Linked DNA regions of Homo sapiens. The protein of the gene in region 3 interacts with the protein of the main gene of each other region in a biochemical or structural test. Each region holds a gene or a part of one and is shown on either strand. Other genes may lie near its edges.

Region 1 (3,502 bases), on a different chromosome or scaffold from region 3:
AAAGCCAAGGCCCTTATACAAAGGCTGGGATATAAGAAAAGCCCACCAAAAGTTTAGCTTAGGCCTTTCCTGGGCCTTAAAACATAAAATAACGAAGAATACGTCAGGACCCATTTAGGATTAAGCCAGTTTTATTGGGAAGAAAACTCCCCAAACTGCTGTGATTTAGCAGAAGGCAAAGCAAGGGTAATTACCCCAGCACTCACAGCCATTTAAATTAAGTCAATTTACTGAGGCTCCAGAGGAAGGTCTTCAAGACTCAATCCTTAGTTAATAGATTAAAAGTCAGTAACTTATGTCTTTACATAAATGTACACATATGTATAGACATATAGCTTAAAAAATATATAAGCTCTGAAAAACTTTGTAATTTTAAGTTGGTCTGGCAATAATTTCCAGGCCTTTTCCCTGCAACTGGTTGCAGAAATAAAAACTCCACCTACTCAGTTAATGTGCATCTTGTTATTGGGCCATGAGAAATAGCAGCCCAAACCTCAGTTTGGTCCAGGAACTGCACCCCAGCCTGGGCAACAAGTGTGAAACTCTGTCTCAAACAAACAAAAAGAAGTGCAGCCCAGTTGGAAATCAGTTTGAAAGCCCCTCGCGGCGGCGGGTCTCTGAGAGGTCAGGGTTATGTGGCAGGGTCACCCACCTCCATCCATGTGCTTCAGCGCCTTCTCGGCTTCATCTGGATTCTCAAACTCTACGTACGCATAGCCTTTGGACAGATGGGGATGCATCCTTTCCACGGGCATGTCAATCATTTTAATTTTCCCATAGGTGGAAAATATCTCCATGATGTGATCCTAGAGGGAAAGAAGGGTCACGCCAACGCCCAGCTACCAGTCAGTCACGTCAGACGCAGAGAGCTCAGCACATCATGACTAAAACCTCGGCAGGGTAAAACATTCCATCTGATGAGTACCAGTGTTGTTCTGGGATAAATCTCCCAGACACATGTATTAATGGTCCACCAAGAGGAACGAATCAATGCTGTACTCAAACCACATGCCACCACCCCAGTCCTCCAAAAGGCTACATTCTAAGTTCATCTGCAGGCACAGGCCTGCTTGTCCACACCCCACTGCCCACAGGAGAGATCCATGATCCTCACCTTTGTCACATTCCGGGTGAGTCTCCCAATGTGCACTTTGGTGGGCTTAGGAGATGGGCTCCGCCTTTTCCTCTCCTTTTCATCTCTTTTAGGTGGTTTGGATCTGATTGAGAAAACAAAACACCAGAAACAATTTCTGTCAAGTCAAAATGTACTAGACGCCTTTCGAGTAAGCTCTTATCTGCTTGTGTGACAGTTTTCATAAGGAAGACTTTCCTGCTAGTTCACATACATTATTCCTGTCTCAGAAATCCTATTAACACAGAAAGACTCCTTTTGGGTCCCTTTTATAACCTCGATGGTAAATCTGTAGCCCCGAGCTTGTAAACTTTAGCTCCCAGGCGCAGGGCACTCACTTGGAGCGGGAGCGCCTCCTGTTGTCGTGTCTGCGCCGAGAAGGACTTGGAGAGCCAGAAGAGCTGCTAGAGCTGGAGCTGCGGGAGGTGCTGGAGCTTCCTGAGCGGCTGGATGCTGAGGAAGAGCTGGAGCCACTGCTTGAGCCAGTGCTGGTGCTGGAGCCTGAGCTGGAAGTCGAGCTGGACCGAGACCTGAGGGCAAGATGAGGGGTCACAACCACCACACACCAAGTCTCACAGTACAGACGCCTCCTCCAATTCTGTTGTGCTCCCCCCAGGAGAAACCTGCTGTTCGGGTGCCTCCAGGCCTCACTGCTTTCAGCAGTGGGGAAAACATCACCCCCCAATCCCCCAGCAAGTCAGAGCCCTAGGTGTCACATTGTGTGTGGGACAGGACAGAGGTGATGGGCTGCCTTCTACCCATACAGAAGCCTTTCCTGCTGGGAGGCAAAGGACTCTGGCAAAAGTCACAACTGCCAACTCAGGCTGGGAAGGCAGCTGCTGGCTGATGCTGACCCAGGCTAGGTTGATTTTTTCTTTTGAGACAGGGTCTGCCACCCAAGCTGGAGTGCAGTGGCATGATCTCCGCACACTGCAGCTTCAACCCCCTGGAATCAAGCCATCCTCCTGACTCAGCCTCCCGAGTAGCTGGGAGTACAGGCGTGTACCACCACACCCGGCTAGTTTTGTTTATTTTCCTCAAACTCCTGGGCTCAAGCCATCCTCTTGCCTCAGCCCTCCCAAGTAGCTGGGACTACAGATGCATGCCACCACGCTCAGCTAATTTTACAAATTACTCTTTTTTTTTTTTTTTTGTAGAGACGAGCTCTTGTTTTGTTGCCCATGCTGGTCTTGAACTCCAGGCCCCAAGCAATCCTCCTGCCTCGGCCTCCCAAAGTGCTGGGATTATAGGCATGAGCCACCACTGCACCTAGCCAGTCTGCCATAAATTAGGGTCTCTACTAACAATCAGAGGATGTGTTTTCTTTGTAAATAATCAAGAAAACCGAGCCATCTGTGGGGAGTGGGGGTGTAGCTGTGGCACAGGTCCTCTCCAGGCTCCAGGCCAGCCCGCCCCACCTGGTACTGCTGCTACCACTGGAAGCGCTGCGCCTCTTTCGGGTTTTGTCCCGGCCGCGATCCTTCTCACTCGACTCCTTGGTGGCCCCTTTATCTTTTGAGCGATCCTTGGACTTCTCATCTGAGCGGTCTTTGCGTTTGGTAGGTGAAGGAGCCCTGGATGGTGAGGAAGAGTGTGAGATTGCGTGCTCCTCTGACCAAACCCAAACAGCACAACCCAAAACGGGGGATCAGCATCAGCAGGGCCACAGAGACCCGAGGTGACCACAGAGCAAAGTGGTCTGTGGCTCAGAACACTCACTGTAGAATGCAGAACATTCTCAACTTTCCCCTTTCTGCGGGTCCCTAGCAGTAAGCACCCCCAAGTAGCACTAGAAAAATCTTACAGAAGGATTACCTAGTGCTGGACTTTTTATTATTTTCTTTGACTCCTAGCAAGCTCTTCTTTTTCACTCCTGATAAATCCATTCTCCCCTTCTGAGGTGTTCAAAGCAGCAATGGCGGCCTCACTTATCTGAACTCTCACTTCTAACTTGATTCTGAGAAACGATCCCTAATCGATTGCAATTTACGCCAAAGAGCAGCCTAATAACAAGATAAAAGGGTTTAAAGAGTGAACGAATTGGCAAGGCAACAAGTCTACTTTGCAGTCAAAAGCTGAGCACACAAAAAGGCAGCAAGGGAGCACGGTAAGCAATAAGTGTCCACACAGTCAGGAACACATAGGGACAGTCCCCATGTGCTCCTGGAGGCGTCTCTACCCCGCAGAGGAGGCACAGGTACAACTGTCGCCCCAGCGTATCTTTTTCTTAAAAAATGGAGATGGTGGAGACCATCACTGTTATTTTACAGGCTGAACAATTCAGTTTTCACCCACAAGTTTGATGAGCCCCTGCAGTCCTTTCAAAATGCCACAGCACCACATTCACATGCAGAACAGAGAAAAACCTAA
Region 2 (2,695 bases), on a different chromosome or scaffold from region 3:
TCCCCTCCACACCCTTCTCACCTGCGACACTGTAAGGTCCCCCTACCCTAACTGGACTAGATCCCTGGGTTCTAGACTTTCCTTAAAGCAGCAGAGCTCAACCTTACCCTGATGCATATGACTGATTAAAGCAGGCTTGGGAGCATGTATCACGAGCCCCAACATACCTGCCCCAGTCCCCTTTCACCTCTGTCCTGGCCCAAGGGACCTTCCCTGCATCCCTTTGCTTCTCAGAAGCAGACTGAGAAGCTGAACTGTGGCTGCCCCTCCAACTCCTGAACCCTGGTCTAGGATTCCTTCCCCGACTCCCAGAAACTTCACTCTTCCTACATTATCTCCTCTCACCAGGATGTGTCCAAGGAACCCCTCCCACCCCCAACCCGGCCCATACCTGGCCTTTGAGGCCCTCAATCTCAGCCTGGAGCCGGCTGATGTTCCGGTTCATCTCAGAGATCTCAGTCTTTGTGCGCCGCAGGTCATCCCCGTGCTTCCCAGCCAGGCTCTGCAGCTCCTCATACTTGATCTGGTACATGCTCTCAGCCTCAGCCCGGCTGCGGTTGGCAATATCCTCGTACTGTGCCTTGACCTCAGCAATGATGCTGTCCATGTCCAGGGAGCGGCTGTTGTCCATGGACAGCACCACAGATGTGTCCGAGATCTGGGACTGCAGCTCCCGGATCTCCTGTGGGGGAAGAGGGCAAGTGGTGAGGCCCTGTCTCTGCACACAGGGAGCCCCCTTTTCCACAACAGCCTTTCTTAGGGTATAAGACAGGGGCAGCAGAGGAGAGGAGCAGGTGGGAGTCAGGGTCAGGGAGAGGGCAAAGTTCCTGAAAAAGGAACTGGGTGCACCAATACTAGGTGCACAGAGGGATCCAATGCAGCTCAAAGATTAGGAACAAGGGCTTTGGGGACAGAGTTGCTGCTGAATCACCACACCCTATGATGACCTTGGATACGTTATTTCACTTCTCTGAGCCCACTTTCTCGTCTGTGAAATGGGGTAATGACTCATCCCTCATGCGAGGGACAGAACATATAGACCCAATAAATACTAGCCGAGCAAATATTGGTGGCTGTAATTAGTCAGCAGTGGGCCTTTGTCTTATTAGTGTGCTGGGGGCTGGGAGGAGCCTCTGGTTGAGTCTCAGGGTGGAGGCGCTGACAAGGCTGGGGGACCCTCACTCTCCTGCGACCAGGAACATACCTCTTCATATAGCTGCCTGAGGAAGTTGATCTCGTCGGTCAGCCCTTCCAGGCGAGACTCCAGCTCTACCTTGTTCATGTAAGCTTCATCCACATCCTGGGGGATGAGGAGAGGGGAGCCTGAGCTGGGTTTCCACACCCAACCCCAACCAAGGGGCTCCCAAGGTCCACCCAATGGCCTGGTCACAGGACTTTCTAGTTGCCCACTTTGTGGATTGATCTTCCAGCCCAGCCTCTGCCCATCACATGTGCATTCTCAGCCCACACACCTTCACCTCTGCTTCCTGCAACACACCCTCTTCCACCTCCTTCTCTAGGGAGCCTTCTAGAGCCAGATCTCCAGTTCTACTGCTCTGTTTTCTGAACCATGTCCCAACACCGATGTCAAGAGTTCTGTCCAAATGCACCTACCACTCCATCCTTGTCTACCTTTCTGTGCACCCAAATGTTTACATAAATGAGTTTGTCCCACTACTTAGGAATATTTAGGGACAAAACCCAGAAAGCTTCTTGGTCTGAGTCTCTGAGCCCCAGCCTCCAGTGTCCAGATAGGAGAAGGGAGACTCCCTCACCTTCTTGATGAGGACAAATTCGTTCTCCATCTCTGTACGCTTATTGATCTCATCCTCATACCTGTGAGGAAAAGACTTACAATTAGAGGATGAAGGCAAAAGGGAGGTTGCCCTTGGTCTTTTGGGAGACAGGGGCGTTGTGAAAATCAGGAAAATTCAGTTCACAGAGATGCAGGATATGAGAAGGCTGGTCCTTCTGCCTTCCCCAGCTGCCCTCTCCACCCTCACCCCTCCCTTAGCCCGTGGGAAGCAGGAAATCTCTCTCCAAATCCATGAATACACATCGGATTGGACACCTTGAGAGTGTTAACAGCAGGGCCTGACATGAGACCTCAGACAGAACTTTCTAGAGTTTGCTAGAGGTCAAGGGTCAAGACTAAAGAGGGGCCAGAATGTTAAGTACAAAAGTGAGGCCCACAGGCTGCCTATCTCTCCCGTCTCAGGTTTACCATGTCAACATTGACACATAATTTGTTCTTCAAATCCAGACAGTTGAGATTGAAAGGGGGTGGGTACTATCAACAATTGTGCTAGGAACCTGGGCATAAACACAGACTGTTCCGAGCAAACCTCATCAGGTGGTCACCCTAATTAGATAGGACTGCACTTCCCACAACAGAGGGCCATGGGGACTTAGTCCCAAGGTCCCAAGGGGTGGAGGAGAGCACGGTGACTTCAGTTGGGTGGAGGGTGGGAGTTGCTCACTTGTTCTTGAAGTCCTCCACCAGCCCCTGCATGTTGCCAAGCTCCGCCTCCAGCTTCAGCTTCTCCTGGCCCAGAGTCTCCAGCTGCCGCCTAAGGTTGTTGATGTAGCTCTCGAACATGTTGTCCATGTTGCTTCGAGCCGTCTTCTGCTGCTGCAGGAGGCTCCACTTGGTCTCCAGCATCTTGTTCTGCTGCTCCAGGAACCGTACCTATAC
Region 3 (2,735 bases):
GTTCCAATTCTTTGCTAGCTTCATTTTCTGAAGGTTCTACACTTTCAACTCGATTAGTTTCCATTACCTCCTGGTCAGCAATTACATGTTTGACATTCTCAACCATCTCTAGCACATCCATAACTTCTTCAGGCTGACTATCCTGCTGCTTCTCACTTTCCCTTACCTCAGTTTCCTCCTCCATCTTAACCTCCATTTCCTGTTTTTGTTCTTCCTCCTCCTGTTCTTTCTCTGCATCACTATGAACAATCGCTATTTCCTTTTCCTCTTCCTCTCCTGCTTCCTCTATTTCTACATCATTGTGCTGATTACCTGTCTCCTCCAACTCTTCCTCTCGCTGAGCCACCTTACCCTCTTCTTGTTCCGCCTTCTGTTCTTCATTACGCACCACCTGATGCTCTTTTTCCTTCATTGATTGTCTTCTAGGCCTAGCCTCCATTTTATTTATTTGTTCTGCAAATTCGATGCGTCTACCTTCAAATAAAGCTAAAGAATAAAAATTTACATGTGTAAAATTTACCGATTAAGAAAATTCAAAGCCATAATTTTATAACTGGTCACAAATTGTCATTAAGCTTCATCTGAATTTGTTTTTGTAAAGTTATGACAAAAGATTATGGCAATTAAGTAACCACAAACTGACATAAAATTATAAAAGCAAAGATCCATGGGAAATCTACATACTAGAAATTGTGGCAGACAGAACTACACATTTTCTAACTGATGAAGAAAACAGATCAATCTTTATGTCTGATGAAAAATAAAACTTCTGTAAAACAGAACCAGTTTTGGCATAAAATCATATATATTAATTTTTCTGATCCCAAAGAGATAAATCATCATCTTAGCAGTGTCTATCCTTCCATGTGTTTTCCATCTAGAAACTGAGTTGGTTTTCACATTTGTCTTATTAGCATTTTATCAGAACAATAATAGCATGCAAAAAAAAGTAATTTTACACAAATGCTTAAGGAATACAGATGCATAAGCACTGTCTATAACTTTCACATTAAACTCCATCATGATACAAATATTCCTATACTACAAACTCACCAGCATCTCAGAATGTATCTTTTTTTTTTTTTTTGAGATGGAGTCTAGCTCTGTTGCCCAGGCTGGAGTTCAGTGGCGTAATCTCGGCTCACTGCAACTTCTGCCTCCCAGGTTCAAGTGATTCTCCTGCCTCAGCCTGCCAAGTAGCTGGAATTACAGGTGCCCACCACCATGCCCAGCTAATTTTTTTTGTATTTTTAGTAGAGACTAGAGACGGGGTTTCACCATGTTAGCCGGGATGGTCTCGATCTCCTGACCTCATGATCTGCCTGCCTCAGCCTCCCAAAGTGCTGGGATTACAGGCGTGAGCCACCACGCCCGGCCTAGAATATCTTATTATCTTATTTAAAAAAAAAAAGCAAACACAGCAAACCAATCACTGAATCATAATTATTTTAGAAAACAAACGTGTGCATATGAACATATTACCTTACCCACTATGAACAATTCAATGGACCTCTTCGCATACTTACCGTTCATTTTTCTCTGTGACTCTTCTATTAGTTTTTGGGTAGCTGGACACATTCTTCCAGGAATATAAAACAAATGGGGCTTTGTCTTAGTTCTTATATATTTAATTATTTTGGCATTATGTTCATTCCATTCTTCTTGCTAAAGAAAAGGTAAAGGGTCAGTGCTTTTGTAAACACAAAGGATTACCAATCTTAGAATTCCAAATTACCACTCACCAGCTGCGCAAGCTCAACTTTCTGTTCCAAAAGCCGCAGTTCTGTCTGTTTAGCACGCCTCTCTTCAAACAGTTCTCTCCTTTCATTTTCAACCTGCTTTCTCTCTTCTTCTGCCTGAACTTCAAGTTTTTGTTCAATTTCCTGGCGCCGCTTTTGCTAAAAGTTAAGTAGCCTGCTTTAATACTTACGTGTTGAAATAGTTACAACAAAAGGTATATATGATTTCAGTTCAATTATGATAAAAAGTTATTACACATACTAATTACGTGAAACATTAGAGGCAGGTAGATCATCTGAAGTCAGAAGCCAACACCACCATCTCTACTAAAAACACAAAAAAATTAACAGGGCGTGGTTGCACGCACCTATAATCCCAGCTACTTGGGAGGCCGAAGCAGGAGAAATCACTTGAACCCCAGAGGCGGAGGTTGCAGTGAGCTGAGATCACGCCACTACACTCCAGCCTGAGCAAGAAGAGCCAAACTCCATCTCAAAAAAAATTTTTTTTTTTTTTTTTTTTTTCACTATGTAAAGGTATCTGCAGGCCGGGCACAGTGGCTCACACCTGTCATCCCAGCACTCTGGGAGGCTGAGGTGGGTGGATTGCTTTGAGCTCAGACCAGCCTGGGCAACATGATAAAACCCCATCTCTACAAAAAAAAAGAAAAAGAAAAAAAAAAGGTATCTGCATATGCTTCACATTTTTTCTTTTTTTGAGATGGAGTTTTGCGCCTGTTGCCCAGGCTGGGGTACAATAGTGTGATCTTGGCTCATTGCAACCTCACCTCCAGGGTTCAAGTGATTCTCTTGCCTCCGCCTCCCAAATAGCTGGGGATTACAGGCGCATGCCACCACAGGCGGCTAATTTTGTATTTTTAGTAAAGACAGGGTTTCACCATGTTGGCCAGGCTGGTCTCGAAAAACTTCTGACCTCAGGTGATCCACCTGCCTCAGCCTCCCAAAGTGCTGGGATTACAGGCATGAGCCACTGCA
Region 4 (2,899 bases), on a different chromosome or scaffold from region 3:
GCTTTTCTGTGTAGAGTGGGACCAAAGCAGTCCTAACTAAAGCCCATAACGTTAAAGATGTTACTGAGACCCATTGCCCTTGCTCATGATGTTAAAATTTCTTCCCAGAGCTCTACGTCTAGTGTACCTTCTTCCGAGAGCCATGGGTTATGGGAAACAACAGTTTGCATTAGGTCCCATAATTGAGCCTGTCTGAGGCTCTGCTAACTTTCAGCATTTGTTTTACTACTTTTATATACTGTTGCTGTTGAGCTGACAACTGTTGTCCCATGATGACAACTGTCATCCCATGATGATCGTCCCTAGCTTGAGCAATTCCTTTGAACTTGGAAATGCTGAACAGGCACCAATGACTTACTGACTGCGCAGTCTCTTCACCTTCATTTTCGAGGGTTCCGTCGTGATCTGTTGCAGCATTCCTCACACAGGGAATCACCTGCCGAGTCTGTCCCACAGACTTTGGCCGAGTGACAGATGAAAGGAGTACTCAGACACAGATATTCAGTGAGAGAGCAGGCTAGGGGACTGCCAGCACTAGGGGCCGAAGAGAGTTAGCAGTCCCCTTAAGCTGGTGGCCCTCACATTTATTTAGCACAAATTTAATGACAAAGGCTTGGAGCAAACACAATTTGTGGGCAATAAACATTGTCAACATCCCAAGTAGACAGCAGTCCTGTGTGTGAATGATCAAAGGTTGGTTTCTGGACACAGGAATAAACAAATTTATCTAGGTAAGTTCCTATACAACTCCCCTGTTATCTGCCCTTTGCTCTCAGGCTTCAGATAAGAATTTGGCTGCCTTCAGCCATAATTTCTTTCTGAAGCTTTTGCAAAACCTCTCGGCCTTCCAAGAAGGTTTGTGTCTTTCCTATAATTTCTCCCACCACCCTGACCAATCTCCTACAAAGGCTGAAGCAGGAGGATTGCTTGAGCCCAGGAGTTTGAGGCTGCAGTGAGCTGCGATCACACCACTGCACTTCAGCCTGGGCAACAGAGCAAGACCTTGTCTCTAAAAAGTAAATAAAAAAAAGAGTTGGGCTAGGTTTGAGGTTTATTGTTGCTATGGTTACCCCCAATGCAGCAGCTTCCAGTTCCTCCAATGACACCTTGGACTGAGGGTGCAGGCTGGCCTGCCAGAGGGATTTTCTCCTTCCATGTGTGCTCCCTGCTCAGCTTTAGGTCCTCCCTTTGTGACCCTCAGAAAGGGTCTTCTTCCCATACTCTTGTCTCTCTCCTGTAACATTTTTACTTCTAACTCAAGGCTTGTCAGCTTACCATTGGCAGGTGGGGGAGGAGGGAATTCTCTGTTCTGATCAAGTCTCAGTCTCTGTCAGGCCCTTTGTGTCTCTGATTTTGGGGTTATGTCCTCCTTAGTGCTCCTGTTCCTCCCCCAGTTCTGGGCCCAGTGTGTATTCCTGCCCCTGCCCAGGGAAAGTTTTGTTTTGTTCCTGTTTCATTCCCCCAGATGCAAGGGAGCTTCATCCAAGGGGGTGACAGGATTTGGTGTCCTTCCCTCCACAGACTAAGGCTTTTGTCCGGTAGGGGATACAGGGAAGGGTCTGGGTGGAGCACTGTGATCCTTTCACAGTAGCTGCCATTGTCTTCTTCCAGATCTTGAGACATTTTATTAAAACTTTCTCCAATCTTCTGTGTGCTCCCAGTGGGGTTCATGGTGAAAAACGCTGAAAAGGGTAAAGACTACTGCAGTCTCCATGACCCAGTCCCTCACCAGTGTCCACTTGTGTTTACCAGGTAACCAGTGCCCATGTCATCTCTTCCATTTTGTGCCTGTCTCTCCTTAGATTTGAAGCCAGTTGATTGTCTTCTGATCTCAGCTCTCCAGAAGACCTTTTCCAGAAGACCTCTCCCTGTGTATCCACTTCTAAACCAGTCACAACTGCCCGAGTCTCACAGCAGCATGGTGGATATCCCGCTGTCCCTCAAACTGGGGCTCTGTCAACAAAGAGGAAGGGAGGAATGACTCCCTTGGGAGGAGACAACAACATTGCAAGTGATCTAGTCTTTGAAAGGCTTTTAAGCAAGGGACTGAGATAAAATTTATTTATTATTTTTAAGAGAGAGGTTCTCACTCTGTCAGCCAGGTCTCACTGAGAGCAATGTGATCATAGCTCACTGCAGCCTCCAACTCCTGGGCTCAACGTATCCTCCCACCCAGCCTCCCCAGTAGCTAGCACTATAGTCACACACCACCACACTAGTTAATGTTTTCATTTTTTGTAGAACAGAGGACTCGCTGTGTTACCCAGGCCTCAAGTGATCATCGGGCCTTGGCCTCCCAAAATGCTGGGGTTATAGATATGAGTCACTGTGCCTGGACTAGAATATTTATTTTTGAAAGATCTTTGGTTGCAGGTGTCAGATGAATCAGGAATTGAGACGAGATGGGAAGGCATCAAGACCAGTTATCTGCTATGATACTCCAAGCAAGAGAGGATGGTGGCTGGGATGAGGAATTTGGCAACGGGAATGGGAGGAAGTGGATGCATTCAAGATAAATATCCATTTATTAAAAGTAGTTGCTTTTTCACCAGAGTAATACATAAATATAGTTTTAAAAGTAAATACTGCTACTATCTTAACAATAATTTAAAAAATCTCAAAATAACATGCAACTGTTTGATTTTTCAGTTTTAGGCATTAGTTCCCCTTATAAATGATGAGAGTTTAGAGCTTAGACCGCTTGTCCTGTTACCAACACCACCACACATGCCAGCATTTCCCATCACTCCTCTTTCCATTGTCATCATACTGTAATCCTGGTTAGACCAGTATTCAGTGTTTCCATTATGACTACGTAAATTCTAATCACAGCTGAACCAGCAGTATGATATTTAGTTTTCCCTCCTTTCATAACTTTTCCCATTCCTGCTGAGTTAAT

The links.
Region 1: the proteins of PNN (region 3) and RNPS1 form a complex in vitro, tested with the Homo sapiens proteins (3 studies listed by BioGRID and IntAct).
Region 2: the proteins of PNN (region 3) and KRT8 form a complex in vitro, tested with the Homo sapiens proteins (one study listed by BioGRID).
Region 4: of the proteins of PNN (region 3) and CSNK2A1, one has a biochemical effect on the other in vitro, tested with the Homo sapiens proteins (one large-scale study listed by BioGRID and IntAct).

The regions. Positions count from the first base shown.
Region 1 is NC_000016.10:2,261,626-2,265,127, forward strand, and holds part of RNPS1 (RNA-binding protein with serine-rich domain 1), read right to left. Parts: intron 3,136-3,502; 5' UTR 3,019-3,135; coding exon 2,948-3,018; intron 2,707-2,947; coding exon 2,551-2,706; intron 1,663-2,550; coding exon 1,471-1,662; intron 1,218-1,470; coding exon 1,115-1,217; intron 807-1,114; coding exon 653-806; intron 1-652. UniProt on the Homo sapiens protein: Part of pre- and post-splicing multiprotein mRNP complexes. Auxiliary component of the splicing-dependent multiprotein exon junction complex (EJC) deposited at splice junction on mRNAs.
Region 2 is NC_000012.12:52,899,384-52,902,078, forward strand, and holds part of KRT8 (keratin, type II cytoskeletal 8), read right to left. Parts: intron 2,690-2,695; coding exon 2,481-2,689; intron 1,837-2,480; coding exon 1,776-1,836; intron 1,301-1,775; coding exon 1,205-1,300; intron 683-1,204; coding exon 392-682; intron 1-391. UniProt on the Homo sapiens protein: Together with KRT19, helps to link the contractile apparatus to dystrophin at the costameres of striated muscle.
Region 3 is NC_000014.9:39,178,254-39,180,988, reverse strand, and holds part of PNN (pinin), read right to left. Parts: intron 1,899-2,735; coding exon 1,743-1,898; intron 1,666-1,742; coding exon 1,527-1,665; intron 487-1,526; coding exon 1-486. UniProt on the Homo sapiens protein: Transcriptional activator binding to the E-box 1 core sequence of the E-cadherin promoter gene; the core-binding sequence is 5'CAGGTG-3'. Capable of reversing CTBP1-mediated transcription repression.
Region 4 is NC_000020.11:471,998-474,896, forward strand, and holds the end of CSNK2A1 (casein kinase II subunit alpha), read right to left. Parts: 3' UTR 501-2,899; downstream 1-500. UniProt on the Homo sapiens protein: Catalytic subunit of a constitutively active serine/threonine-protein kinase complex that phosphorylates a large number of substrates containing acidic residues C-terminal to the phosphorylated serine or threonine.